Regions from separate parts of the Homo sapiens genome. Here all the other regions are reported to be linked to region 4. Evidence: microRNA targets listed by miRTarBase, many of them from high-throughput screens and not tested one by one. Region 4 holds a microRNA gene; each other region holds the end of a gene's coding sequence.

Region 1 (4,067 bases), not on the chromosome of region 4:
GGCCTTCTTGACAGATGGTGGGGAGACATCTGGTGGCATCAGGACATGGGGCATGGGCCCATGCGTTGGGCCACAGAGGAGGCGGGCAGCTGCTCCCTGCTCCTCTGTAAAGATGGCCCTGAAGGGCCAGGAGGCACTGAAAAAGCAACCATTGCTGGCGGAGGCCGGGCACTGATGCGTCTCTCTCCTGCAGACCGGAAGCCTCCCCTCGCTGCTGCCTTAGGTGAGGCTGAGCCGCCGGGCCCTGTGGATGCCACTGACCTCCCCAAAGTCCAGATTCCCCCTCCGGCCCACCCGGCCCCTGTGCACCAGCCACCGCCGCTGCCACACCGGCCCCCGCCCCCACCCCCCTCCAGCTACATGACCGGGATGTCCACCACCAGCTCCTACATGTCTGGAGAGGGCTACCAGAGCCTGCAGTCCATGATGAAGACCGAGGGACCCTCCTACGGTGCCCTGCCCCCCGCCTACGGCCCACCTGCACACCTGCCCTACCACCCCCATGTCTACCCGCCCAACCCGCCCCCGCCACCTGTGCCTCCTCCCCCAGCCTCCTTCCCCCCACCTGCCATCCCACCCCCTACTCCTGGCTACCCCCCACCCCCACCCACCTACAACCCCAACTTCCCACCCCCACCCCCACGCCTCCCGCCTACCCACGCAGTCCCCCCTCATCCTCCTCCAGGGTTGGGCCTGCCGCCAGCCAGCTACCCACCTCCTGCCGTCCCCCCTGGAGGACAGCCTCCTGTGCCCCCGCCCATTCCCCCACCCGGCATGCCTCCAGTTGGGGGGCTGGGGCGGGCAGCCTGGATGAGATAACGTGAGCCTTTTTTCCCTCTTTGTTTTTTTAACAAGATTTTCTAATCGACTTGCAGAGTAGTTGAAGTGGGTAAGCAGCAGGGTACCTTGTATAATGCACGACAGTTGCAGTATGGGAAGAATGGACCGGGCCCCTGGGATAAAATCAGAGTGGTCCTCACACCTAGAGGACGGGGACAACCAGCTTTCAGAGTAGCCTCATCAGTGCCCTTGCAGTCTGACTGTGTACACTTGGTTCAGCTAATGTCTGAGAGTCCTGCACTGGGTTACTTTATACTAGTGAGGACGTTAACCAGCCATATTGGCTCAATAAATAGCTTCGGTAAGGAGTTAATTTCCTTCTAGAAATCAGTGCCTATTTTTCCTGGAAACTCAATTTTAAATAGTCCAATTCCATCTGAAGCCAAGCTGTTGTCATTTTCATTCGGTGACATTCTCTCCCATGACACCCAGAAGGGGCAGAAGAACCACATTTTTCATTTATAGATGTTTGCATCCTTTGTATTAAAATTATTTTGAAGGGGTTGCCTCATTGGATGGCTTTTTTTTTTTCCTCCAGGGAGAAGGGGAGAAATGTACTTGGAAATTAATGTATGTTTACATCTCTTTGCAAATTCCTGTACATAGAGATATATTTTTTAAGTGTGAATGTAACAACATACTGTGAATTCCATCTTGGTTACAAATGAGACTCCTTCAGTCAGTTATCCAAATAAAAGCAGTTCTGAAACTATCCCTTTCTTTGTTATGGGTGGAAGGTGGGGCTCCAGGCCTTCGCAGTCTGTGGCTTATAAAATGTGCAGAGGCCCTCCTTCCAGACCCTGGGGACGCGGGAGAGGCCTGGCTGCAGCTCACAGCAGCCACAGCCAACCCCACTGCCTCCCAAGGCACTCTGGGTGGATCCGCACAGCTGCCTGCCAAGCCAGCCTGCCCCCATCCTGTGCCTGCCTTGGTTTCCTTTGGAGGACCTGGTTGAGTTCCAAACCAGTTTGAAACTTTGAAGCCTTGCTGCGTAGAACGCACACAGGAACCCGGGGGCTTGGATTTGAAACCCTTTCCACTTCTGGCCTGTGATGAGACAGAGGCAGCTGGAGGAGCAGCGGCCTCACTGTCCACCTTGAGGGGCCACGGCTCTGTCTGTGGAAGGGGCCCCGACTGAGCCCCCATCTGCGGTGCTTGAGGGGCCTTGGCCCTGTCTCTGCCTGCTGACCCTGCCACCCACGACAGAAACAAGCACTGAGCACCCAGCCAGGAGGCTCACAAAGAGGCCTTTATTTATCTAGCTCAAAGTAGACACTATCACAATCTTGTTTGTTACTCCTTTTACTAAAATAGTTCAAATCAATGTTTTTACCACACTATCAAAAAGTTCTATTTCTTCTTGTCTCCCCACGTCAGAGTGGTTGAATAGAAGGTAGAAACAGGCCGGGAGTCCACGGGCTCCCAGCTCTAAACGGCGCCAGGGCAGGAAGGGGTGGCTCCAGGTCTCACTGTGGCACCTTCTACAGAAAATAGACGTAGCTGCCGGGCCCGGGGACAGAAACCAGACGTTCCAGTCCATCTCCAAAAAGCAGCACAAATACTTTGCCCCACAGTATGAAAAATATACACCTCTACCGCTCTGCAGTCATGCATTTAGTTTTAAGAAAAAAAAAAAATCAGTAGTATGTATCTTGTTTCCTCAAGTTTCAAGAAAAAAAAAATGAAAGGTCACTTTTTTCTCTTTAAACACTGATGTGTAGCTAGTAACTTGGATAAAAAGGTGCCACCCTACAAAATGTGCTCAGCATGTTCTGAGGCCAGGATGGGCTTGGCCACCTGGGCTGGGGCGAAAGGAGACCTCCATCTGTCACAGTGGAAACTGAAGCCGAGTGCCAGTGCCGCGTCCGGCTTCAAGATCAAGAGTCAGAGCCTTTGAAATGGAAAGGGGGCATCTGAAAGGGCACCCCCACTGGGGGCTTTCAGAGCTAAGGCTCCAGAAGGAAGGGGGTCGCCCTGCTAGTGACGGAGCTGGGAGTCACCCTGAGCTACAGCATGCCCAGATTTCCCCTGTGGGAAGCCCCATCTGACCTTCTACAGCCCACGGCTCTGCAACTGCCACCTGTACTCAGGTACATGGCGTCGCTGCTGCTGGCTTTTAAAATCAGCTATTAGTTTGAGATGTGACAGTCGCCGACAGGGTTCTGTCCTAGAAAGCCATCCCAGTGCCGTGTTGGCTCAGGGGTCACCAGCTTTGTGCTGCCTCCGTAACAGCAGGAGGGTTCTCAAAGCAATGTTCCACTGATCCCTGGATGCCACTGCAGCATTAAAGACAGGGTCAGTCCCCTTGAGGGGAAAGGTGGCTTCAAGGCTGTTCTCTGGGCCTGTTTGCAGGAGATCCGCAGGTACCAGGAGCCCGTACTTATTGCTTATTTCAGTGGTGGCCACGCCAACCTGACCCAAACATGATGCACACGGGCTCCCAGACTTGGCTGCCACTCAAAATGGACCCACAGCCCTTGGGCTACTCTGCGGTTCTTTGGACTGCAAGACCCAGAGGGGCCTCTGCTCAGCTGCCCACTCGGGCAAGAATCACTGGGTACCATGAGCAGCAGGTGTTCACCCAACTTCACGTGTACACCCCTAGTGACCGGGAGCGCACCACCTGACCGGGCGACACTCCTTCCCAAAGAGCCTCCTGGCAACACCCACGGCAGGAGCGCCACACCATCCCATCACCAGCACCCACTTACCCCCCTGGGGCTAAGATGGGGGGCGTGAGCCTTTCCCCTGAGAGCAAACGGGCAGCAAGAACTGCTCAGAATAGAGCCGCCAGCTAGGGAGAGGGACAGGGCGGCCATCTCCCTCCTCTTGCCTGCATCCCCAGCCCTGGGCCTGCATGAGACCTGCTGGGTAGGAAGACAGCCTCTCTGGGCTCTTCAGGTGGGGCTGAGCAGCCCCTGGAAGAGCACAGGAGTCTGACGAGGACCTGGTGAGGTCCTGGACCCAAGAGCTAGGGCTGCTTACAGTGGCATGAGCGGATGTGGGGAAGCGGCCTGTCCCCGTGCTGCAGCTGTGGGATCAAAATCCCTGTCATGTGCCACACATCACCCCCTCTAGGCCTTACTTTCCTCACACACACAGTTTTCTATTGCACTTTACAGTTTATACATGGTCATTTACACTGAAGATCTCACTTGATGCCAGAATCCTGTGAGGAGGGCCTTATGCTGCCCATTTTACTACTGAGGACACGGGCTCAGAGTGGG
Region 2 (4,067 bases), not on the chromosome of region 4:
ATCCAGACTAGTCGATTTTGGTATTGTCCTGCTCCCTTTACCATGTGGTTAGTGCCTTTACAAAAATTCCTTGGCTTTCCCCTCCATGAGGCTTTGCGAGGGAGCAAGAGTGGATGCCTGCATTGGCCAGCTGTCTGCAACTGAGGTCCCCGCGTCCCATGCAGTAGGCCAGGCCTGGCCACCACTTGTCCCTGGACTCTGGACAGCCAGGCTGGCTCTGCAGAGCAGCTCCAGGTCTCATGGCCCTGATGAAACCACGGCACCTCCTGGCCACCCTCACAGTAAACATTGATGGTTAAGGATACAGTGCTTTCAAGGGAGCCCAGGACTTGGCACTGACTTGTCGGTTTCCAGAGGCTTTTGGAAACAAAAACGAAGCCTTCAGCTTGTCAGCGCCAATGGCCCGTGTGGTTCATTATGTGGACCAGCCCCTGCCACGCTGCAGCCGAGCACTGCTCACCCTGGGGGCAGGCATGCAGAGGTCATGCTGTTGATTTCATTCCAGGCCTGCGCCACCTCCGGGAGCTCAAGGCTAGGGAGGATTGGCCAGAGGAAGCACCTGGTGCTGAACTAGGCTTGCCCTGCTGTGAACTTGCACTTGGAGCCCTGACGCTGCTGTTCTCCCCGAAGAACCCGACCGACCTCCGCGATCTCCGTCCCGCCCCCAGGGAGACACAGCAGTGACTCAGAGCTGGTCGCACACTGTGCCTCCCTCCTCACCGCCCATCGTAATGAATTATTTTGAAAATTAATTCCACCATCCTTTCAGATTCTGGATGGAAAGACTGAATCTTTGACTCAGAATTGTTTGCCGAAAAGAATGATGTGACTTTCTTAGTCATTTAGGATGATTTAAGGATATAGTATTCCTGGTCATTTAAGAATGTTCATTCATTGAAGCCGGAGCTGTCTCTGCCACAGGAGAGCCACATGGTCGGTAGTAACCAGGGCCTCTCCAAGCCCAGCTGTGAGTCACTGCCCAGTGAGTCCCGCGCTTCCTTTAAGGTGCTGGGAGCAAAGAGAGGGTGACTGAGGCAGACCCCAACCCCTGCTCTGCACCATCTGGGCCCTCGCCGTGTTTGAACCTGGCTGAATGAGTGGAGGGCGCTGTGTTCTCAATCAGCGCCTCCGAGGAGCCGTGGGGTTCCTTCGGCATTAGTTCACGGTTTTTGAGAGAGGCCTTAGTTACTGCAGTGAATTTCTTTCCTGTTGCAAAGACGCTTCCAGCCTCACTTTACTTTCTGTGGCCTGATGAGGACCATGGGTGATTTTGTGTACCCAAAGCGCTGGGGACTGCCCACCGTGTGGCCCAGTCACTGGGAAGGAGCCCCAGAGAGCCGGCTGTCTGACATGATGGCTCAGGGTGGTCATCCAGGTTGAAAACTGACCGTGTGATGTTTGATTTGGGCTTCATTTCGTGTGTAGGAGCACGGTTAGACTCACTGTTAAGGAAGCTGGATGCACTTCTCTAAAAGGCTGCACTTTCCGTGAGCACTTTTCGTGGTACAATCCACATGACCCACTTTCTCCCCTGGGGGACGTTGGTTCAGAGGTTGGTAGCACTTGGGGAGAGTATCTTAACACAGTTTCTTGACAGCAGCTCTGGAACTTAGTATTTCTGCCCCGAGTTTTGCCACACTGAGACTTTGAGTAGCTCCTGGTGGACTCAACCCTGTTCAACTCAGAGACGGGCCTCCTCTCACTGATGCAAAGCTTTAAGGCTTCTCTGACTGTTCTGAAACTCTTCGTATTCTTGTCAAGTCTAAAGAGACTGAAGAAAAGATTTAAATACTAATAAAAATCAGTAGATAATTTCTGTAGGTTCTGCTGGAGGAATACAAACTGTTTGGTGTTTTAAATTTAAGTGTAGAAATTGTAGAATGTGGAATTAGCACAGATCCTTCCTGGCTTTCTGTTTCACTTGATCATTTAGCCCAGACCACCCAGGATGTTTTCCAAAATGTTCCACAGGCGTGTCCCGCTGGATCCATTTGTCCTTGTCACTTGGAGAAAGGCCAGTCCCTGTGACGGGGCAGCCCTCTCTGTCCCTCGGTCAGCTCGTGTGAATCCTGGGACCTCTTCCGGTCGGCTCTGCCCGCTGTTCTGGGGTCGACTGCCACGACTTTTGATTCAAGAAGCTTCCTCCAGGCGGGAGCGGCTATTTTTCCTAAATGAGAATTGTTACATTGCAAATTGTTGAATAAAATATTTTGCGCTCCTTCAAGCACCTTCACCTGTGGTTCCCTTTGGTTTGCTGGAAGCGAGTGAGTGCAGGTGTCCGCAGGCCTCGGCGCTGTCCTGGACCGCACCCAGGTCCTCTCCGGGGACCTGCACCTGCCTCGCTGGGACCTGCCGGACTGCGGGGCTGCCGGGTTGGGAGGGGCGTGGGAGACCCGTCCGGGTCCGGTGCGGCGCAGTCCTCCGGCCGCCAGGGGCCGCTGTGGGCGGGGCCGGGGCGCGGGGCGGGGACCGGGCGCGGCCCCGCGGCGGCGGTTGCTGGGTCCCGGCCGGGCTGACTCCGCTTCTGGGCGGCCGGGCCTCCGCGAGTACCGGGTCGACTTCGGAGTCTGCGAGCCCAGCCAGGGGTGCCCGCTTCCCACCCCTCTCCCCGAGCGGCGTCCCCGTCGGGGTCGAACCTCCCCCGCGACAGGCGCCCAGCCGCCTGTTCCCCCAGGCCTTGCCTGCGGACCGCCCTGGGAACGGCGTCTGGGAGCCCCGAGGGGCTGGCGGGACTCGGGGCCCGGGCCATGCGGCAGCCGCCCCCGCCCCTCCGCGACCATCCCCGGCCCAAGCGGGAGCCGCAGCGGCGTTTCTGCTCCTCGCTGCGCCGGCGACCCCGGACCCGGCACCCGTGACCCCTCGCGCTGCCTGCGGCCTCGCGCCGAGGCCTGCCCCGGGAGAGACCGTCCATGCCGTCCAAGGCGGAGAATCTGCGGCCCTCCGAGCCGGCCCCGCAGCCGCCGGAAGGGAGGACGCTCCAAGGACAGCTTCCCGGCGCTCCGCCGGCCCAGCGCGCGGGGTCCCCACCCGATGCTCCGGGCTCCGAGAGCCCCGCGCTTGCCTGCAGCACTCCGGCCACGCCCAGCGGCGAGGACCCGCCAGCCCGAGCAGCACCCATCGCCCCGCGGCCCCCCGCCAGGCCTCGACTGGAGCGAGCCCTGTCCCTGGACGACAAGGGCTGGAGGAGGAGGCGTTTTCGAGGCAGCCAGGAGGACCTGGAAGCCCGGAATGGGACCAGTCCCTCCAGGGGCTCAGTGCAGAGCGAGGGCCCCGGGGCCCCCGCCCACAGCTGCTCCCCGCCCTGCCTGAGCACCTCCTTGCAGGAAATCCCCAAGTCCCGCGGGGTCCTGAGCAGTGAGAGAGGGAGCCCGTCCTCGGGGGGTAACCCTCTCTCTGGGGTGGCCAGCAGCTCCCCGAACCTCCCGCACAGAGACGCCGCCGTGGCGGGGAGCTCGCCCAGGCTGCCCAGCCTGCTGCCCCCGCGCCCACCGCCTGCCCTGAGCCTGGACATCGCCTCCGACTCCCTGAGGACAGCAAACAAGGTCGACTCGGATCTTGCAGACTACAAGCTCCGCGCGCAGCCGCTCCTGGTGCGGGCCCACAGCAGCCTGGGCCCCGGCCGGCCGCGGAGCCCCCTGGCCTGCGACGACTGTTCCCTTCGCTCGGCCAAATCCTCCTTCAGCCTCCTGGCGCCCATCCGCAGCAAGGACGTCCGCAGCAGGTAGGGAGGGCCTGGCGGGTGCAGCGCCCGCGCCGCCTTCGTTGTAGTGTTCAGGCTGCTGGAACCTCGTGAGACCGTTCCCATCAGCAGCGTTTAAGATGCCTAACCGGAAAGAACGAAGCGGGTCTCCCGCAGCCACCCCATCTCCCAGCCCCACCCCACAGCAGCGCCCTTCCCAGAACTTTTCCTGTGCGTTTCAGAACCATTCGTGGGCGTGACGTTGTGTTAAGGTAGACAGGATGGCATCCTGCATACAATTACGTATCTGGCGCTTTTTCTTGTTTAGTCTTGGGAAATGTCGTCAATGTATACGATCCGCCCCTTTGGTTGTTTTTGTTTGTTACTC
Region 3 (4,067 bases), not on the chromosome of region 4:
TTGGCATCATAGACATCAATGTTAGGCTTCAGAAGTCCAAGGAAGAACATCATGTGTGTGGTGAATATGAAGAACAGGATGATGTGGAGAGTAATGACTCTGGAGAAGACCAGAGTGAATATAATACAGACACATCTGCTCTGTCTTCTATTAATCCAGATGAAATAATGTTAGATGAAGAAGAAGATGAAGATAGTATTGTAAGTGCACATAGTGGCATGAATACACCATCGGTAGAACCTTCTGATCAAGCTTCTGAGTTTTCTGCAAGTTTCTCTGATGTCAGGATCTTGCCAGGCTCTATGATTGTATCTTCTGATGATACGGTGGATTCCACAATTGATAGAGAGGGGAAACCTGGTGGGACTGTGGAGTCAGGGAATGGAGAGGACTTAACCAAGGTGCCATTGAAGAGGCTGAGTGATGAACATGAACCTGAACAAAGAAAGAAAATTAAGAGGAGGAATCAAGCCATTTACGCTGCAGTGGATGATGATGATGACGATGCAGCTTAAGATGATTTACTTGTTTTGTTTTTGTGTTTGTTTTGTTTTTTTGAGATGGAGTTTCACTCTTGTCACCTAGACTGGAGTGCAATGGCGTGATCTCGGCTCACCGCAACCTCCGCCTCCCAGGTTCAAGCAATTCTCCTGCCTCAGCCTCCCAAGTAGGTGGGACTACAGGTGCCCGCCACCACACCCGGCTAATTTTTGCATTTTTAGTAATGACAGGGTTTCACCGTGTTGGCCAGGCTGGTCTCCAACTCCTGACCTCAGGCGATCCACCTGTCTTGGCCTTCTAAAGTGCTGGGATTACAGGCGTGAGCCACTGTGCCTGGCCGACAATTTACTTGTCTTAGTATTATATGTAGATATGTGATTTTTTGAGACTGTATTTTTAGAGCTGAATTTTTGACTAAAGACTTAACTTTATAATAATGAAGATACATTAGAGAATTTTAGTTAGATATTGACTTTATCTTTAGGCTTTTGTATGTTTCAGATGCAAACATATTAAAGTTTCATATATTTACTTGACTGGGTATCTTTTTTTTTGAAGACATACATTATTCACTTCCATTTTTACAATAAACACTTACTTAACATCTACTCTGTGCCAAGCACTCTGCTATAATATGGGACCATAAAGATGAGTAAGACAAGGATTTTTGCCTCCAAGGACTTGTTATCACTGTAAACATTTTGATGTATACAATATGGCTATATTATATTTTGTTTTATAAAATCAAGTCATTGTATATATTATGATGTATGCTTTCTTTTCATTTATTATAAATATTTTTCCTGATCAGCTTTTAATATCTGTCAAATAAAAATTGAAATTGAAGATGGTATATAAGATTTCAGGAAATAAACTACTCTGAATACTAAACATTGGTAAACGTACAATCTTAATTTGCTGAGATTAGTATAACCCTGCTGACTTTTGCATATTGAGTTTTTTTTGTTTTTTTTTTTTGAGATGCAATCTCACTCTGTCGTTCAGGAGTGCAGTGGGGAGATATCGGCTCACTACAAGCTCCGCCTCCTGGGTTCACGCCATTCTCCTGCCTCAGCCTCCTGAGTAGCTGGGACTACAGGCTCCCGCAACCATGCCTGGCTAATTGTTTGTATTTTGTTTAGTAGAGACGGGGTTTCACCGTGTTAGCCAGGATGGTCTCTATCTCCTGACCTCGTGATCTGCCCGCCTCGGCCTCCCAAAGTGCTGGGATTACAGGCGTGAGCCACTGTGCCCGGCCAGCATATTGTGTTTTAACTTTAGCTTTAATTTTCATGTAACTATAGTAACTATGTAGGTCATTTTTGGCATAGTTCACCCCATAGTTTTAATTACTAGCAAGGATCAAGCTGCACAAATAACTGCCCCTCATGCTGCGTGATGGATTGCTAAATTAAAGTATTTTTGAAGATCCATATAGAAAAACTACACCTCTGTGCTATCTCTGGTTAAAATACCTGGGCCACCTGAAGAGATTGTCACTCCGTACTTCATATCAGAAGTCGTGGAATCCAAGATTGTTCCAGGATCTCATCATCCCATGGCAGTCTAAATCCAGGAGTTAATCTAGGAGAATAATAATGTAGCACTTGGCTTCTACCTTGTCAACATTTGACTTAATAACGGTCTAGGATTTGGGGGATTTTATTTTTATTTCCTTCCATTTTTTGGTTTACTTTCTTTTTTGAGTTGAATAATTCACTCATTTTACTTTTTTTTTTTTTTTTTTTTTTTTTTGAGACAAAGTCTCACTCTGTCACCCAGGTGGGAGTGCAGTGGCACAATCTTGGCTCATTACTGCAACCTCCACCTCCCAGGTTCAAGGCAATTCTGGTATTTCAAGGTGAATCTCATGCCTCAGCCTCCCAAGTAGCTGGGACTACAGGCGCCTGCCACCATGTCCAGCTAATTTTTTTTTTTTTCAGGCAGAGTTTTGCTCTTGTTGCCCAGGCTGGAGTGCAATGGCATCATCTCAGCTCACCACAACTTCCGCCTCCCGGGTTCAAGCAATTCTCCTGCCTTAGCCTCCCGAGTAGGTGGGATTACAGGCATGTGCCACCACGTCTGGCTAATTTTTTGTATTTTTAGTAGAGATGTGGTTTCTCCATGTTGGTCAGGCTGGTCTCGAACTCCTGACCTGAGGTGATCCGCCCACCTCGGCCTCCCAAAGTGCTGGGATTAAAGGCTTGAGCCACCACACCCGGCCTAATTTTTGTATTTTTAGTTGAAATAGGGTTTTGCCATGTTGGCCAGGCTGGTCTCGAACTCCTGGCTTCAGGTGATCCACCTGCCTTGGCCTCCCAAAGTGCTGGGACCACAGCCATGAACCACCTCGCCTGGCCCACTTATTTAATTTAATTAATTTATTTATTTGAGATAGTCTCATTCTGTCACTCAGGCTGGAGTGCAGTGGCATGATCTCGGCTCACTGCAACCTCCGCCTCCTGAGTTCAAGCGATTCTCCTGCCTCAGCCTCCCAAGTAGCTGGGACTACAGGCCCATGCCACCACACCCGGCTAATTTGTGTATTTTTAGTAGAGACAGGGTTTCACCATGTTGGCCAGGATGGTCTCAATCTCTTGACCTCGTGATCCGCCCACCTCGGCCTCTCAAAGTGCTGGGATTACAAGCGTGAGCCACGGTCCCGGCTTGCTTTATTTATTTATTTATTTATTTTATTTTTATTTTTTTTGAGATGGAGTTTTGCTCTGTTGCCCAGGCTGGAGTGCAGTGGCGTGATCTCAGCTCACTGCAAGCTCCGCCTCCCGGGTTCACGCCATTCTCCTGCCTCAGCCTCCCGAGTAGCTGGAACTACAGGCACCCACCACCATGCCCGGCTAATTTTTTTGTACTTTTAGTAGAGACGGGGTTTCACCGTGTTAGCCAGGATGGTCTCGATCTCCTGACCTCGTGATCCGCCTGCCTCGGCCTTCCAAAGTGCTGGGATTACAGGCATGAGCCACTGCGCCCCGCCCTTATTTATTTATTTTTGAGACAGAGTCTCGCTCTGTCCCCCAGGCTGGAGTGCAGTGGTGCGATCTCAGTTCACTTCAACCTCTGCCCCCTGGCTTCAAGCGATTCTCCTGCCTCAGCCTCCTGAATAGCTGGAACTACAGGTGTCCGCCACCATGACCAGCTAATTTTTGAATTTTTAGTAGAAATAGGGTTTCATCATGTTGGCCAGGCTGGTCTCAAAACTCCTGGCTTCAAACGATCCACCCGCTTTGGCCTCTCAAAGTGCTGGGATTACAGGCCTGAGCCACCACGCCCAGCCCGGCCCACTTATTTTTATTCTCATTATTTACATAAAGTATTTAAAGCTATGACCAGGCACAATGGCTCATGCCTGTAATCCCAACATTTTGAGAGGCTGAGACAAGAGGATTGCTTGAGCTCAGGAGTTCGAGACCAGCCTGGGCTGAAGTGAGACCTCGTCTCTACAAATTAATAAAAAAAAATTAGCTGGGTGTGGTTTCACATGCCTGTGGTCCCAGATACTTGAGCAGCTGAGAAGGGAGGATTGCTTGAGACTAGGAGGTTGAGGCTGT
Region 4 (4,067 bases):
CATGGTGGAGGGAAGGAGGAGCAAGTCACATCTTACATGGTGGCAGGAAAGAGAGAACTTGTACGGGGGGAACTTTGCTTTATAAGAACATCAGATCTCATAAGGCTTATTCATTATCCTGAGAACAGCACAGAAAAGACCTGCCCCCAGGATTTGATTACCTCCCACTGGGTTCTTCCCAGGACACATGGGAATTTTGGGAGCTACAATTCAAGATGAGATTTGGGTGGGGATACAGCCAAACCATATCAGTATACTTAAAGAGAGAGGCAGGAAATGAATGGTTTTAGTAGTATTGCTCACACTTAGCATTTCAGTGCTGTGACAGGGTAGGTAGTGCAAAGTGAGGGAACTAAGTTTGTGGGGAAACTGCTATCTACTGCTACATGACAGTATTACCACAAACCTGGAAGCTGGAAGCCACACACATTTATTATCTCAGAGTTTCTGTGGATTAGGAGTCTGGGCATGCGTTAGTTGGGCCCTTTTTAAGGTTGCAAACTAGGTGTCAGTAAGAACTGAGTACTCATCTGAGGCTCAACTGGGGAAGGATACACTTATAGGCTTAGATGGTTACTAGTAGCATTGAAATCCTTACAGGCTGCTGAACTGAGGGCCTCAGTTTCTTGCCAGTTGTCCTCAATTTTTTGCCACATAACTGTCCATAGGGCAGTGCACAACATGACAGCTTGTTTTCTCAAAACCAAGAGGAAAGAGAGTTTTTCGGTGTGATAGTCATTACAATCTTATACAACATTGTGAAGGAAGTGAAATCTGTTCCTTTCGCTGTATTCCATTGGTTAGAAGCAAGTCGAACGTCCCACCCACAGTCAAGTGTGTGAGTTCTACAGCAGCATGACTCCAGGAGGAGCACATCATGGGCGCCAACTTAAGTCTGGTCAACAAAACTACTGTGGATGGAGAACTATAAAGACATTGAATAATTAATTTTTTAATTTCACTCTGAGGCACATATTAATATGATTTTACAGATGAGTAAGACGAGCTTCTCAAATATGAAGACCCTTATTACTCCGCACTTGGTCCATAGCAACTCCCTGTAAACTTGTTTCTTTCCTTCTAGAAAATCCTCTCCAGTTCCATTTTCTACACAGCAACTAGAATGACAAAACAAATGTGATCACATCCATGTTCTGTTAAACAACCTTAGTGCTCCTCTTACCTCTTTAACATGATGGATACCATTGGCCCTTCATTAAATTGTCCTCAAACTACTGAAGCTTATAGTTTTTGGGGTCCCCTGGTGCCGTCCCCACAATGCACAATGCTCCTACACTTCCCCCATCTGAATGCAGGCCTCTTTTCCCTGCACACACTGAGCTTCATCTTCCTGACCCTCGGAGTTATCTGAGGCACCTGACTCCAGGTTCTAGAAAGTGAGATTCTCCATTATTTCTTCTCCCCACATTCCCTGGGCCTCACCTACCTGGAGATTATCTAGAGCTCTCAGCATGCTGCATGAAGAGCCTCCAGGTTTGAGTGGACCCCAGCTCCTGGGAGGCTCTCAGACTCCTTAGGAGCAACCCCAGTGACACCTTTCAGCATCAGGCGTCACTGCTGCATGCTCATTTCCTTCGCCAATCACTGCATAAACATGATTTATCTGTTGTACAGAGAGGCAACAGAAGCATTAGAACATTTGAGCTCCTTTTCCTGGTTGGCTGGAGGGGGCACTTACTTCTAGTAAGCGAGGTATTTAACATCTCTAGTCTATCATACACCAATTATTTAATATTAATTTTTATACATGCAACATTGGAGGACTAGGATTTGCTTACCTGTAAGGCCTTTTCTATCAGGATAGCATACTTTAAAGAGCCTGGAGAGGAACATAATTTTCCTTTTAAAAATAACAATTCCTGCCACGGAAGATGAATCCTGTAAGCATGCGAGCAGAGAAGCTGTACTGGATGAAGAAATCCTGTGCCCCTTTGGGTTCCCTTCACTATCTGACTGTCTCCTTCCCTCTAAAGCACAGCCTGCCTCCCAGACCTGCTTACCAACAACCTCTGATGGGACGTCCACGAGATGGCTGGAAGTCCCCAGCCTGCCTGGCTCACAAGCCCTGCACACCAAGCCCATCTTCAAGGAGACACTTGTCTACTTCCAGTAGTGGATGATGCACTCTGTGCAGGGCCAACTGTGCACACAGTGCTTCATCCACTACTGGAAGTGTCATGAGCTACTGTTCAGGAGTCCAGTGCAACCTGGAATTCTGAGGGTGTTAACTGTCCAAGTGGCAAATGGATCAATGGAAACAGGAAATAGGAAGGAGCTAGCTGGGTTATTCCCCCTCCTGTGTTTCTCCCATGTGCTACCCCAAGACAGAGATATTCGTTGTAATTTTCCTGGACAAGCCTAGGGCTGCCAGTTGTAACTTCAAGGCTTGTGGGGAAGGAGCAGCAAGGTGATGCATCACTTCACCTGGCATCCCAGATTTCTTTGCCTTTACTTCACTTCTTCCTCTCTTTCCTGGGTTTGCACATCCCAAATAAAGTCTTAGGTTTTTTTGTCTCAATGGCTCAGGCTAAGACAGAAGCCCAACTGTGAAGGCTACTCACGTTCTCACCCTGCTGTATCGTAGAATGGAGCTGAAATACAAAATTGAGATTCAACACATTCAGTCCCGACCAGAAACATTTCAAGGAAATCTGTGCTCACAGCAAGATTGAGTGATGGGACACAGCGCTTGAGATTTCAAGGCAAATGCTTTTTATGTCGTACTCAACATGATTAGCTTCACACGTTACCAAAAAAAAAAAAAAAAAAAAAAAAAACAAAAACCAAAAAAACCCCACAAAAAACTGACTCATAAAACATGTATTGATGTTGCATTTGGGAACAGCTGCAGCCAGCCTGTGTGCAGAAATACACAAAAATGATTATCTTCCTAAAATCAATCTTTGCAGTTCTGGAAGAAGACAGAAGACGGAAATAGCTCTTTGTGGAGCTGAGTGACATGTTCTGGCCAGGCATTCTTTGTTAATATAACAGATGAGAATTAGACAAATTGGAGCTGGAAAGCGCTCCTGTCATAATGTGGCTGATGGGTCTGTGGAACAGCAGCAGCCATGCCTGCAGGATGTGCTCACTGCTTTCCTGAGCTCCTTTTAAATAATCCAAGCTGTGACACTTCCCTAAGTGGAAGCTGATCTCTAAATTAGGTGAAATGTTAATATTATGTAGTTTAATCCATCCTTGAAGTCAGAGAGTTTGCAGAGGGGGTGGCTTGGGAGCCTCCTGATGGATTGTTCATTCATTCTTTCAGGCATTTATTCATTCATGTATTGAATTCAGAACTGCCCAGTAGAGCTTTCTGCTGTGATGAAGGGTCCCATAACAGCACTTTCTGATACTGTAGTCGCTAGCCATTTGTGACTACTGAGCACTTGAAATGGGGGTACAAGATGAATTTTTTATTGTATATGATTTCAGTTAATTTAAATTTGAGTAGTTAAATGTGGCTAGTGGCTACCGTATTGGATGGTGTAGCTAAACATTCATTCATTTAAAAATATTTACTGGATATCTACTAAAAGGCCTCTTAGAAGGTGCTTGGTAAATATTTTAGGGGAATAGTGGGTACTCAATATATATATTTTTAGTGACATGAGGAAGGCAAGCTGGGTCCACAAATATTTTTAGTAAAACAGGGACTAAATATTGTAAAACACACATACAATTTTATGAGACTAGATATACATATATCTGATGATAGAATAACTTATTTTATTAATTTATTTTTAATTCTATTGGTTTAAAATGGGCAAGGCAAAGATTAGGTATCTCTTCATGTCAAAGATATATTTGTGTTGAACCTGGAATGGAATTCCAAGCAGAGAGAACAGAGAAGGATGAGTAAAGGGTCCCAGAAATAGCTCTTTGGTTCATAGTGGATAAGACAAGAAGGGTCTAGAGGTTACACAAAGAGGCATAAGGATTGTGCACTATTTCCATCCAGGAAATATAAAGGCAAATTTTCAGCATGTTCAGATTAGAAAATTTATTGTAAGAAAAAAAAAAAAAAAAACACAAGAGAATTTCTG
Region 5 (4,067 bases), not on the chromosome of region 4:
GAAACTGAGGACATATAGGTAGAACAATTTCCTCTAAGTTATGCCAGAGGCAATACCAGGCACATATAGAAATGAAATTCGTATAAAATTCCAAGTCTGAGTTGTTTCCTTTTCTTAATTTGGTGGTTGTCACTCCTCATGTTTGAAAATGTATCACTCTCAGAAACTTATTTAATGTCTTTCTCAGATCACTGCTAATAAATTACGTCAGCTCTTCTTCATAAAAGAAATCTCTATATACAATGTTGTATTTTTTTAACACTAAAAGGCAAGCCAGGTTATGGTTTTAAGAAGTACCAATTTAATAATGAATACTTAGAAATATGGTACACAGATACCATAGTAATATAAAATGCATACAATTTTAAATTATTTTCTTATAAACTCTCTACATGAATGGCTGGCGGCTTCCAACAGATAAACTTTTGGACAAAGGTACAAGATATTTTTGGGCATTCATTTTAAATACCATCTAGTTATCCAATTAGGAGGTTTCTAAAAAAATAAATATGACAAATATATGGATTTCTGAAGTATAAACTGACATACAAATCTATATATTTTCTTAATACTTTTCATTAAAGCATCTTTAAAGCATTCTGTAACATGAAGTTGAGAGTTCAAATTAGATGTAATGAAAAGGCATGAGGTTTTATTAGAACTGTGTAATTCACATATCAAATTTTTACATAAAAGTAAACAAACACAAAATTGAAAAGCAAAATACGTTATTTTACTCTCCAAGTTACCAATTTCAGAAAACTACTCACTGGAAAAATTAATATTCCCAATTCTGAATGTTAATAAGAAAACATGTAGGTGCAATTCCAGAAACTTAATTCTACCTTCTAAGAAGCAGTGAAGGAGTAAGGTAACACTGCCCCTTGGGGATTGTCAAAGCTTTTCTAGAACTGCTGGAGAGCTGATTCTCTTTTGAGACAGTGAGAATTAAAACTATCCATTCACCAGCATACAAACCTGTGATAAGCTCTCTTTTCCAAACTTCCATATGATCAGAACTCTGAACCATAGGTTAGTGAACTGACCTTAAATGTGCCCACCTCCTCCATCTCACTGAACAGGCAGCTCCAGAGGAAAAAAAAAAAAATCCATTATGTTTTCTCACCTGAACAGTTTGAATGAAATATCTATTTTGAAGTTATAGAGAAGAAATAATAATCTTACACAAGGGCTAGTTTGATGGAACTTAAACTCTTAAATTTCATGTAATAAATGCTAGTTATTAGAAGAATATGTTCTTTAGTGGAATTTAAACCATCAAAACTTAACTGGGTACATTACTAGTTTTAAAAGTTAACATGGGAGAAATAAAAGCATTTTCCTGCACTAATTTAGAGCAGTGGTCTTCAACTCTGACTACAAATTAGAATCACTCAAAGAGCTTTTGGAAAAACAAGCATGGCTCCATCTTCCAGAAATTTAGACTTAATTGTTATGAGGTGGATTCCATATTAAAAGTCCTCAGATGATTCTAATATGAAGTGAGGGTTGAAAACCACTGATTTAAAACAATTATTAAATTATTAATGACTTATGGTGGTCTTGATTTAAATAAATTATTTAAAATTCAAATACATGAGCACTTTTTATGTAATAGGCACAGTTCTAATAATAAGGTAATTTTTTAATAAAAATCATTGGATAACATTGATACATTTTTATCATTTGAATTATATAAATTTATTAAAATATTACTCAAACTTCTATTATAGTCTGCTGTCACAAAAGATTTCCTATTAACTTTTCTGAACTACCCTCCACTTGATACTATGGCAAAAGAGAGATCACACTCAGAAACTTTTCCTTAAGAAAGATACATGGAGAGAGCCTAAGAATTTTAAGAATTCATTTTCAAGTCACAGTACATGAGGTATTCTCCATCTTTTATCTGGAGTCACAAGCCATAACCTAAGAACTGAAATTAGGCATTGTTTTTGGATGCTTAACAGAATCTCCTAGATCAAGACCAACTCCCACTGGTATCAGTGCTTGCTTTAAACTACCTAAAAAAAAAAAAAAAAAAAAAAAAATCTATGGCAGATCCTTAGGGAACCTAGTAAGAGTGGGTCTTCTAATGCAGACCTTGTATCTTATGACCTATTTATAAAACAATTCTTAAAAAAAATACAGGATATGGTTTTTGAAACATATATAATTAGAAATTAGTTATCTCAAAGGAACTAAAAAATATATAGTTTTGAAATACTATATAATTAGAAATTACTATCCCAGGATGATAGCCAGAGCTTTCATATTTTAAATTAGAACCAACTTTTTAAGGTATTATAAAGCTCATTTAAAATGTACTTTAATTCAAGAAAAAAAATCAGGTATAAATTAGTAAGTTTAATTTGTAACTACTTTTTAACCTATTTTTCAGGTTTAAATTTGCCCAAACCAACTGAAAAATTTATTAATACTATAGTAGGCTAATTATCTTTTATATCCAGACATTAGGCCAAAAATGATACAATTCTGGTTAATCCATAATATATGCATATATAGGAAAATGCAATAGTAATTTGTTTTCCATACTTGATGATTAAAATAGCTTCAAATATTTTATGAAAGCTTAGTCAAAATAAATATTTAATAAAAAGATATACCATAACAAAATATCAAGAAGTTAGTGTTTGAAAATAAACTGTCACGTTGTTTTGCTTTCAGTCAAACAGAACTGAATTCAGTGGCTTAAGGTATCTAAGAATAATTCAATTGTGACTTTGGAAACAAAAAAATTAAAATCCAGGTTAAGACTACAGAGCTAACACAAAGATGAAAGAGAAGTTTACTACGTTATAACTCAAAAGTTTAGAGTTATTGGGACTTCTCAATGACTACGATCTAAGAAACATGAATAATTTGGGGAGTAAAAGTAAAAAAAAAAAATCATGATTATGTGATTCATGTTGTGACACTCTCAATAAGTAAAACTAAACAACAAAAAATACAGTATATATGAGCACCATTAAAAATGTGTGTATGTAGCTATACATGTGTCAAACTTTACCTGATTAAAAATTACATTTAAAGTTAAAAACAAGTATACAATTATGAAAATACATTCTCAAGCTAACATGTCATGACTTATTTTAAAATGTTTCATCAAGCATTCCTTCTAAAACTCAACTAAGGAATACAACATAAAAAAAGCCAGCATTCTTTTGTAGTGTAAATCCCTTGATTAAACAGAATTACTTAAGTGTTTTCAATTCATAGTTAGATTCTAAGAGGTGCAAGAAAAATGAAGTAGGCAAATAAATGGGAATTAACAGAATAAACCAGCACATGTTGGATTTGTCCTCAAGGGATTATCATTCAGGCCTCAAAATTATTTTTAATTGAGAGCAGTAAAGATTACATTGCCAGAAACACCTTCTTTCTATAATAAAAGTTGTAAATTTGTCACTTCCGCTGTAATATTTCTGCTATATTCACCCACACTCTGAAAACAGCGATACATAATATACATCCTGGGATAATACAGGTCTTTAATGAAAATCTTATTTTGATCCTACTTCAAGGCAGCTCATGATTGACCATTAGGAACCCTTGAACTTTTTTTCAAAGCTCCCAGTAAAAGCAATCACATGATACGGATTGATGTTCTTTGATACCATTGTCACGATAAATATTAATGTTATTCACCATTTAAAATACGTTCAATCTCTTCTAGTCTTTTTAAAGCAGCAACTCTTTTCTTCTCAATTTCTTTGATGTCTTTTGTTGTTTTGTGGGGTGTCTCTTCGTCTCCATTTTTTCCTAATTGTTTGTTGGATTTAGACTGACTTTTATTATCACTTGTTTTTACTATTTGTGTTTGTCTGGATTCACCTCTAATTTCTTTTACACTTTCAGTTGGAATTTTCTTTCCTTCCACACTTGAAATCTTACTGGTTGGGAATATTGGCTCTATAAAACTAGATGAGGAAATCTTATCCCTGACTATATTCAAATGGCGCTGAATATATTCTTCATGTGGTGCTAATGCCAGTGTTTCAAGAAGGCATCTTTCAGCTTTTAATAAGTCTTTTTCTTCAAAATAA
Region 6 (4,067 bases), not on the chromosome of region 4:
CGCGCCGGGCTCGGCGGCGCTGAGTACCTACACGCCCGAGAACCTGCTCAACAAGTGCAAGCCGGGCGATCTGGTGGAGTTCGTGTCGCAGGCTCAGTACCCGCACTGGGCCGTATATGTGGGTAACTTCCAGGTGGTGCACCTGCACCGGCTGGAGGTGATTAACAGCTTCCTGACTGACGCCAGCCAGGGCCGTCGCGGCCGCGTGGTCAACGATCTGTACCGCTACAAGCCGCTAAGCTCCAGCGCCGTGGTGCGCAACGCGCTGGCGCACGTGGGTGCCAAGGAGCGCGAGCTGAGCTGGCGCAACTCGGAGAGTTTCGCCGCCTGGTGCCGCTACGGCAAGCGCGAGTTCAAGATCGGCGGCGAGCTGCGCATCGGCAAGCAGCCCTACCGGCTGCAGATTCAGCTGTCGGCGCAGCGCAGCCACACGCTCGAGTTCCAGAGTCTAGAGGACCTGATCATGGAGAAGCGACGCAACGACCAGATCGGGCGCGCGGCCGTGCTGCAGGAGCTCGCCACGCACCTGCACCCGGCGGAGCCGGAGGAGGGCGACAGCAACGTGGCGCGGACTACGCCGCCTCCCGGGCGCCCCCCTGCGCCCAGCTCCGAGGAGGAGGACGGAGAGGCAGTGGCACACTGATGGGCGAGCTGAGCGCAGAGCTGCGAAGGGGAACTGTTTGCAGTAGCAGCCGCTGCTCCCTTTCTCCCTCTCTTCCTCCCTCTTTTGCCACTGTCTGGGCCCCATCTGGGATTCCTGGGCCCTTTGGAAAAGAGTTGGTGAAATGCGCAGCCGGCTGTGGACGGGGGAGGAGGAAGGGGACAGAGGGAGCAGGTAGGAAACACTTTAGTTGGGGGTGGGGGGCGTCTCCCTCTGGCCCCCTGTCTGTCTTCCTCTCCGCGGTGGAGCAAACTGTGGACTTGCCTGGCACTTAAACCTTGGTAGATCTGGGTTTATAATCGGCCATTCTTAAGCACGTGGGGTTGGGGGAAAGTTCGGAGTACCCATTCCTGCCGTTGCTTCCTATCCTGGGCTTGGAAGAATCCTGGTAGAAAGGCCAGAGTGGGTTTGTGGAGTCGCCACTGCGGGACCAGCACGAAAGCTGCTTGTCTGCTTTGGCGGAGCTGAGCTGTGTATGGGATCCAGGAGGCTGGGGTGATTTATTTTATGGGATTCCTGGAGCGCAGGGCTGGTGAATCCATGACAAGGTCCGGGAGCAGCAGACCAAAACCACAGCAGCCTCCTATTAAGTGTAACAAATAGTTAAGCAAACTCGGGCTACAAACAAAGACTTTGCTACCTCCCTCCTCCACAACCCCCAAGTAATTAGCCTTCTGGAGCTGGCTCTTAGCTGAGGCTCCTGCTACCTCCTGCTCCACCCGCCCCTTCCTAGGTTACAAGTAAATCATTGTCAAGGGCCAGCCAGGGGAAGGTTTCAATTAAGGTTCTGTTCTGCTGCCTTTGTTTCTCCCCTGCTGTTGTAGGCACTTACAGCTGCGTTGTTATGAAAGGAGGGAATAGCCCTTTGTGTCTTTGATCTAATTAAACCTGCTTGGCTGTGTTTATCCGCAGGGCAGGTCACAGATAGGGTTGGCTGTGCCACTCCATAAAGTATCTATTGTGGAAGCAGCCAAAAAGGGCTGCTGTGGCAGGAATTGGTTAATTTCTCCTTCCACTTCCCTTCCTGAATAGTGAAGGGAGCCCTTTTAAAACAAGGCTTTGGTGGTAATCCTGTGATTTTTTTTTCTCCCCCATCCCCTCACTGGCCCATCCCTCTCACCCTCACTTTTGTTCTGCTGGTGGGTAAAATCTTAGGCTGAACACATATTTCAATGGTAAGATACTTATTTTGCTATCCACACTTGATGCAATTGAATTCAAGGTGCAAAGTCTTGTACTGAAGCAGTCTCCTTGTTGCTTGGAGAACACCTCCTTCAGAGCCCTTTGTTAAATAAGAGGGGCGACGTTGATCATAGATGCCACCTGGTTAGCACCGAATCTGACTTTGGTGACAGTCCTAAAGCACAGTTGGTGATTGTGAGATCTGTTAGCGGCAGGCTGAGCAGATACTACTTGGTTTTGCTTGGTATGAGATACTACTGTTTGCTTAGTATGAGATTTTTTCCAGCCTGTCTCTTAAACTCCTGTGACATCTTCAATGATATGTGCCCTCAGTTGCAGCATAGCTTCTCTGCTGCCTATTGCCATTGCTGTCTCAAAAGTTGAGTGAATTTTGAGGCGTCTTTTTTTTTTTTTCCTCTCTTGGGAGTCGTTGTAAACTACTGTGTACAAGTCATTTTGTGATATGATTCTGAACAGTTGGAATAGAATCATAGTTAAGTGGTACAGCCATGGCTATCGTCAGGCCTGTTGCCTGGAGATCTCTAAGTTAAGGCAACAAGACTTAAAGAATTTTCTAATACACTTGTTTCACACATGGACGTTGAGGCCATAGTCTTTAAAAGCTTGGACCTTTGTAGCACCTCAACATGAAAGGGCATTAGCTATGTTTCCTGTTTTTACAGTGATCACCAAACAGATCTTGCCACTTTGATTGTTAAAAATGAACCACATTCTAGCCCTGGTCTGGGACTTTGGAGGGAGATGAATTTCTTGTTGGAAATGTAAATCTAGTGTCCATATTTAATACTCTCACAGCTTTGTGTTTATTCTCTTTGCTCATGGAATAGCAGAACAAGATAAACATGGGTTAAGACATTTAGGAGAACCTGCTGTATCTAACCCAGTTGGATTTTCTTTCATGCTTAACACAGTAGTGAAAATAGAAGGTAGGCCGGGCACAGTGGCTCATGCCTGTAATCCCAGCACTTTGGGAGGCTGAGGCAGGTAGATCACCTGAAGTTAGGAGTTCGAGACCAGCCTGGCCAACATGGCGAAACCCTGTCTCTACCACAAATACAGAAAATTAGCTGGGCGTGGTGGCAGGCGCCTGTAATGCCTGCTACTTGGGAGCCTGAGGCAGAAGAATTGCTTGAAGCTGGGAAGCAGAGGTTGCAGTGAGCCGAGATCGCACCACTGCACTCCAGCCTGGGCAGCAGAGCAAGTAGTAATAACCACCGTGTAGACAAGTGGGAGGGAAGAATAGAATGGCACTGTCCAGCTCTGGGCTAGCCAGATCAACTCCCCCACCCGTCTTCTTCCTCTGTCCCAGAATGGAAAATGATGTATGGTCAGTCACGCTGAAGTATAGCAGCGACTGTGTTAAGAGAGAGCAGTGACTCTCTCTTCTAGAGAAGAGGTTTTCAATAACAGGGCTTGGAAATGAACTAGAATAGGAAATAGATCTTTTCAGATGCTGCTTTCCCATGTAATACAAGCGTTTCTACAGGGTACCAGAGGTGTGAAATATGTGACACTTAAGAACAGTGATTTTTATTGGGAATTTTCTTAGGGTTATTACACTTAAAGCAACAACCAACTAGTAACAGCTCCAGGAAAGGGGAATGAATCAACTCTTGGTTCTTTCCTGAAGACGGCAGTGTTGTGGATAAGTGAGTTTTTAATGCCCTGGCAGTGGCTACATTTGACACTTTAGAAAAAATAAACATATTTAATAATTTTTGTTTCTCCTTAGGAATAAGACTGTAGAACTGTTTTGTACTGTGAATTACGGATGCTCTTTGAAGGAAAGAAATATCGATTCTAATGTTCTTCAGAAGTTCTGGCAGGGATAAGCAGGACATCGACTGGAACGTATGCTAAATGAAAGCAGACAAATTTCTATTTTCTTACCTGAGCAAATATTTTATTGAAACTGCTTATGTATGTCAAAGGAGCCCACAACTTCAGCTACACAACTTTTTGTATTGAAAGAACTCATACTTTTTGTAGCTTTTATTTCACATTTAATTTAAAGTGACTTTTAGCACTAAAATGCCTAGAAGATTTTACTCCAGACCTATAAGGAAATGTTTAGTTTTTATGAAAAATGACAAGTCGATGGTTAAACTTCTCATGTCTTTGGTGCTTTGGCCCTAATAGCACTGGACAACACCACGACCACATGGAAACATATTTTTGGAAGCAAAACTTTAATTTTATATAA
Region 7 (4,061 bases), not on the chromosome of region 4:
AGCAGCAGGAACTCTCATTCACTGCTCGTTTGAATACAAAATGGTACAGTCACTCTGGAAGACAGGTTGGTAGTTTCTCAGAAGACTCCTGGCATATGATCCAGCAATTGTGCTCTTTGGTCGTTACGTAAATAAGTTGAAAACGTCTATCCACAAAAAACCTGCGCACAGATGTTTGTAGCAGCTTTACTCATAATTTCCAAACCTTGTAAGCAACCAAGATATCCTTCAGTAGGTGAGTGCATAAACTGTGGTGCATTCAGACAATAGAATATGCAGTGCTAAAATGAAGTGCGCTATCGAGCCACAAAAACCTAACCAAAACAACATGGAGGAACCTTACATGCATATGTTCTACCAGGTGAAAGAAGCCAATCTGAAAAAGCTACACCCTGTGTGACTCCAACTATATGACCTTCGATGGAGACAAAACTAGGGAGACAGTAAAAAGATCAGCGGTCAGCAGGGATTTGGGGGGAGACAGGGAACAGACAGAACACAGGAAACTTCTAGGGCAGTGAAACTGTTCTGTGTGATACTACAGTGGCAGATGCATGTCATTATACATTTGTCAAAACCCACAGAGACTGCTCTAAAAAGTAAAGTCTATGTTTGAAATAAAGAAAAATAGCTTATGATACTTCAAAAATCAAAGTCTAATATGAGACCTGTTGTTAGTTATCTGCAGTCATTTTGCTTAGCATAAACTCTATCAAGTTCTACAGACTCAGAGGGAAAAAACTACTGTGAAGTCTATAATCGTATTTTTATGCTTCAGATATTTTTTATTGAATTTAACCTCAAGTATGCTGCCTCATTTCATTCTGAAATAATTTCAGAAAGACGTTGGAGAATTAAATGTGGGAGGCAGACATGAAACATTTTTTCTCTGAAGAAAACCACCAAGTTGATTCCAAACGTACATACTTGGGGGAGGCATATGTAATTTGTCTGGTTTTACTCATCACTATTTGTTATCAGGGAGAACCATTCTCCTTTTTGAAATTCTTCAGACCAGATTCTTAGTAGTCCAGGCTCAACTTCTTGGCTTCATTTCTGGACATGACCACTCACTGCCATTTATTCAATACCTACTATGTGCTGGACTTCATGTCTGATGATTTATATGTATTTTCTGTAGGTCTCCCATCAACCCTGCTGAAAAACATTTTGACAATTTATACATTAAAAACATTGCAATTCAAGAACATTAACATTCTAATATTACAAAGCCAATGAACAGAACTGCCAGAATTTGATCTAAAGACTGCCCACACCCAAAACCCAGTTGCTTTCCATAATGTGCTGTCAGGTTACTTTGGAAAAACCTTAATTCATCCCTGAGGAACATTTTCTGTAAAGCTTCTGCCATCATCCTATTAGTATTTCTTTACTGCCTCTTACATTTCTGCTAACAGCATACGTTCTCCCATCTTCTGAGAATAGAAGCAATCAGCCCTCCCTGACTCTCAGTTAAAGAGAGAGATCCCAGGGTTTGGCACCATACCTGTGTCTGACGTCAGCTTATACCCATCCTCATGTTTGAAGTGATCATCCTGGTATGGTCTGTTTTTTGTTTGAACTCTTGTAGAAGATCAACTCAGGCAAGGCGTGGTAGCTCACACCTGTAATCACAACATTTTAGAAGGCCGAGGCAGGAGGATTGCTTGAGCTCAAGAGTTTGAGACCAGCCTGGGCAACATAGCAAGACCTCATCTCTACTAAAAATCAAAAAAATTAGCCAGGCATGGTAGTGCATGCCTGTAGTCCCAGCTACTCGGGAGGCTGAGGTGGGAGAATCAATGACCTAAGCCCAGGAGGACGAGGCTGCAGTGAGCCATGATTGTGCCACTGCACTCCAGGCTGGATGACAGAGCAAGACCCTATCTCAAAAAACAGAACAAAAAAAAAGAGGCGTAGTGGCTCATGCCTGTAATCCCAGCACTTTGGGAGGCTGAGGCGGGCAGATCATAAGGTCAAGAGATCGAGACCATCCTGGCCAACATGGTGAAACCTCATCTCTTCTAAAATTACAAAAATTAGCTGGGCGTGGTGGCGCATGCCTGTAGTCCCAGCTACTCAGGAGGCTGAGGCAGGAGAATGGCTTGAACCCGGGAGGTGGAGGTTGCAGTGAGCCGAGATTGCACTACTGCAATCAGCCTGGGTGACAGAGTGAGACTCTGTGTCAGAAAAAAAAAAAAAAAGAAAAAGAAAAGATAGATCATCTCTCTCTTCCCGGTGCTGCTGAAGGGTAAGATGTAAACCTAGAGTGCTCAAGAATGTAAATGTAGAGAGCCAGCACAGGAGCCAGAGACAGAGCGGAAGCCCAGGGAAGGCTGTTCACACCCGGTCCCGCTGCCCTGGAAGCTAGCGTCTGCTCCTTTCAGTCATGTGCACTACAAATATCCCTTCGTTTTTCCTTTGGCACAGGCAAATGTGGGTTTCCTGTCTTTTGCATTCCCTAATAATACACTGCCCTACTTATTTCAAACTGTATGGTTAGGCAGGGTGCTGTGGCTCACACCTGCAATCCTAGCACTTTGGGAGGCTGAGGCAGGAGGATCACTTGAGCCCAGGAGTTTGACAGCAGCCTGGGCAACACAGTGAGACCATGTCTCTAAAAGTAAAAAAATTAAAAACAAATAAAACTATAGTTCAACATTGCTGGTAGGACTGTAAAATGGTATAGCTGCTCTGGAAGAGTTTGGCAGAAGCGAAAGCTTCTGTTCACATAAAATCCTGTAAATGGGTGATCATGGCAGCATTATTCACAATAGCCAAAAAGTAGAAACAATCTAAATGTTTATCAGCTGATGAATGGACAAACAAAATACGGTACATCCATACAGTGGAATATTAAGCAGCCATAAAAACAAATGAAGCACGCCTACATGCTACTGCATGGATAAACCTTGAAAACATGATGCTAAGTGTAAGAAGCCAGTCATAAAAGATCACATATTATATGATTCCATTTATAAGAAATGTCCAGAAAGGGCAAATCCATAGAGACAGAAAGTACATTAGTGGCTGTCTAGGGCTAGGGCAGAGGGGAAAAATAGCGATTGACTATTAAAGGGTTTCATTTTGGGGTATGAAAGTGTTTTAAAATCAGACAGTGGTGATGGCTGCACAATTCTGCAAAAATACTAAAAACCACTGAATTGTATGTATATTTTAAATGAGTGAACTGTATGGTATATGAATTATTACCACAATAAAGCTGCTTCTATATTTATAGTTTGACATTTAAAATTTAGTCACACTTAGAGTTCAACTTTACTACTCTACTACTGAAAATATAGAGTGTATGAAGGATTTCCTCCAATTACATGATTCTAAATTGTCATAGATAAAACACTTTATAATAACATTCTTTAATGAAGATATAAACTCATCAAGTAAATTACAAAGGAAACAAAAATAACAAGGACAAAATTACATAGTTTGATACCTCATGAGACATAATTAAATTCTTCTCAAAGTTTAGCTGAACAACTATACAGTAATATTTTCAAAAACCTGTTTGTTTTATACAAAAGAATATACCCTAACACAGTAGAGTCTCATAATGCCTTGGCGAACACCAATTTGATGCTTTAAGATTTTAATGTATTGTTAACAAATTTTCAAACTCAGGCAAGTTTAGAAATGTCTTCATATTGAATTCCTTCAACTCTGCGTCCTTTTAAAGGGCCCTACAAATTAAAATAATTTAAAATAAGGTTAAAAACACATATTCCTAAAAGACAAAAAAATGACACCATACTTATGGATACAAATTTGCCTTTTCCGCATCCCTAAAATACCATTAAGATTGTTAACATTTGTATACATCTATGAATTTTAAGAATAATCTATGGCATTCTCATTAAGAACTACCATATTTTCTTCTGTGACATCTGACATACGTTATCAATAGACATTGTGGCAGAGACCTGCAAGCTGTTCAGTATCTCCTCTGCTTCCTGGATAAATAGCCAGTTTCCTGGCTCCCTTGTGGTTAGCTGTGGCCATGCATGGAGCTCCAGCCCATGAAAGCAAACAGAAGTGACGGTCCA

Evidence for each region. The annotated mature microRNA hsa-miR-3681-3p reads ACACAGUGCUUCAUCCACUACU and lies in region 4 at 2,168-2,189, shown strand. An mRNA with a match to its seed (bases 2 to 7 or 8) in the 3' UTR can be bound and repressed. Matches are read on the target gene's strand: a 7mer-m8 pairs with bases 2 to 8, a 7mer-A1 pairs with bases 2 to 7 and ends in A, and an 8mer does both.
Region 1: the mRNA of CCNK is a reported target of hsa-miR-3681-3p. Seed matches in the 3' UTR shown: 7mer-A1 at 1,480-1,486 and 7mer-m8 at 2,308-2,314.
Region 2: the mRNA of SEC16A is a reported target of hsa-miR-3681-3p. Seed matches in the 3' UTR shown: 7mer-m8 at 701-707.
Region 3: miRTarBase lists DBR1 as a target of hsa-miR-3681-3p. Seed matches in the 3' UTR shown: 7mer-m8 at 827-833.
Region 5: miRTarBase lists TMTC3 as a target of hsa-miR-3681-3p. Seed matches in the 3' UTR shown: 7mer-A1 at 1,878-1,884.
Region 6: miRTarBase lists LRATD2 as a target of hsa-miR-3681-3p. Seed matches in the 3' UTR shown: 7mer-A1 at 3,622-3,628.
Region 7: the mRNA of KIN is a reported target of hsa-miR-3681-3p. Seed matches in the 3' UTR shown: 7mer-m8 at 2,600-2,606.

What each region holds. Positions count from the first base shown.
Region 1 is chr14:99,509,964-99,514,030 of GRCh38, forward strand. It overlaps CCNK (cyclin K), which reads left to right. Exons shown (of 11, transcript NM_001099402.2): 11 at 194-2,477. The coding sequence ends at 819. It overlaps CCDC85C (coiled-coil domain containing 85C), which reads right to left. Exons shown (of 6, transcript NM_001144995.2): 6 at 1-4,067. Among named protein-coding and RNA genes, the nearest start is that of CCNK, 31 kb to the left of the region's middle. RefSeq lists enhancers at 1,341-1,842, 1,843-2,342, 2,343-3,343.
Region 2 is chr9:136,438,262-136,442,328 of GRCh38, reverse strand. It overlaps SEC16A (SEC16 homolog A, endoplasmic reticulum export factor), which reads left to right. Exons shown (of 32, transcript NM_014866.2): 32 at 506-2,224. The coding sequence ends at 574. INPP5E (inositol polyphosphate-5-phosphatase E) reads left to right here and starts at 2,484. Exons shown (of 10, transcript NM_019892.6): 1 at 2,484-3,721. The coding sequence starts at 2,910. RefSeq lists silencers at 2,326-2,525, 2,576-2,755, 2,816-3,305 and enhancers at 2,378-3,011, 3,012-3,646, 3,596-3,705, 3,647-4,067.
Region 3 is chr3:138,158,337-138,162,403 of GRCh38, reverse strand. DBR1 (debranching RNA lariats 1) reads left to right here. Exons shown (of 8, transcript NM_016216.4): 8 at 1-1,416. The coding sequence ends at 515. Among named protein-coding and RNA genes, the nearest start is that of DBR1, 15 kb to the left of the region's middle. RefSeq lists an enhancer at 1,454-1,955.
Region 4 is chr2:12,197,007-12,201,073 of GRCh38, forward strand. MIR3681 (microRNA 3681) reads left to right here and starts at 2,124; the gene lies at 2,124-2,195. The region is part of intron 3 of MIR3681HG (MIR3681 host gene); the gene reads left to right.
Region 5 is chr12:88,195,244-88,199,310 of GRCh38, reverse strand. TMTC3 (transmembrane O-mannosyltransferase targeting cadherins 3) reads right to left here. Exons shown (of 14, transcript NM_181783.4): 14 at 1-4,067. The coding sequence ends at 3,662. Among named protein-coding and RNA genes, the nearest start is that of TMTC3, 55 kb to the right of the region's middle.
Region 6 is chr8:126,553,033-126,557,099 of GRCh38, reverse strand. LRATD2 (LRAT domain containing 2) reads left to right here. Exons shown (of 2, transcript NM_174911.5): 2 at 1-4,067. The coding sequence ends at 643. Among named protein-coding and RNA genes, the nearest start is that of LRATD2, 3.4 kb to the left of the region's middle. RefSeq lists an enhancer at 198-347 and a silencer at 558-677.
Region 7 is chr10:7,752,445-7,756,505 of GRCh38, forward strand. KIN (Kin17 DNA and RNA binding protein) reads right to left here. Exons shown (of 13, transcript NM_012311.4): 13 at 1-3,698. The coding sequence ends at 3,636. Among named protein-coding and RNA genes, the nearest start is that of KIN, 34 kb to the right of the region's middle.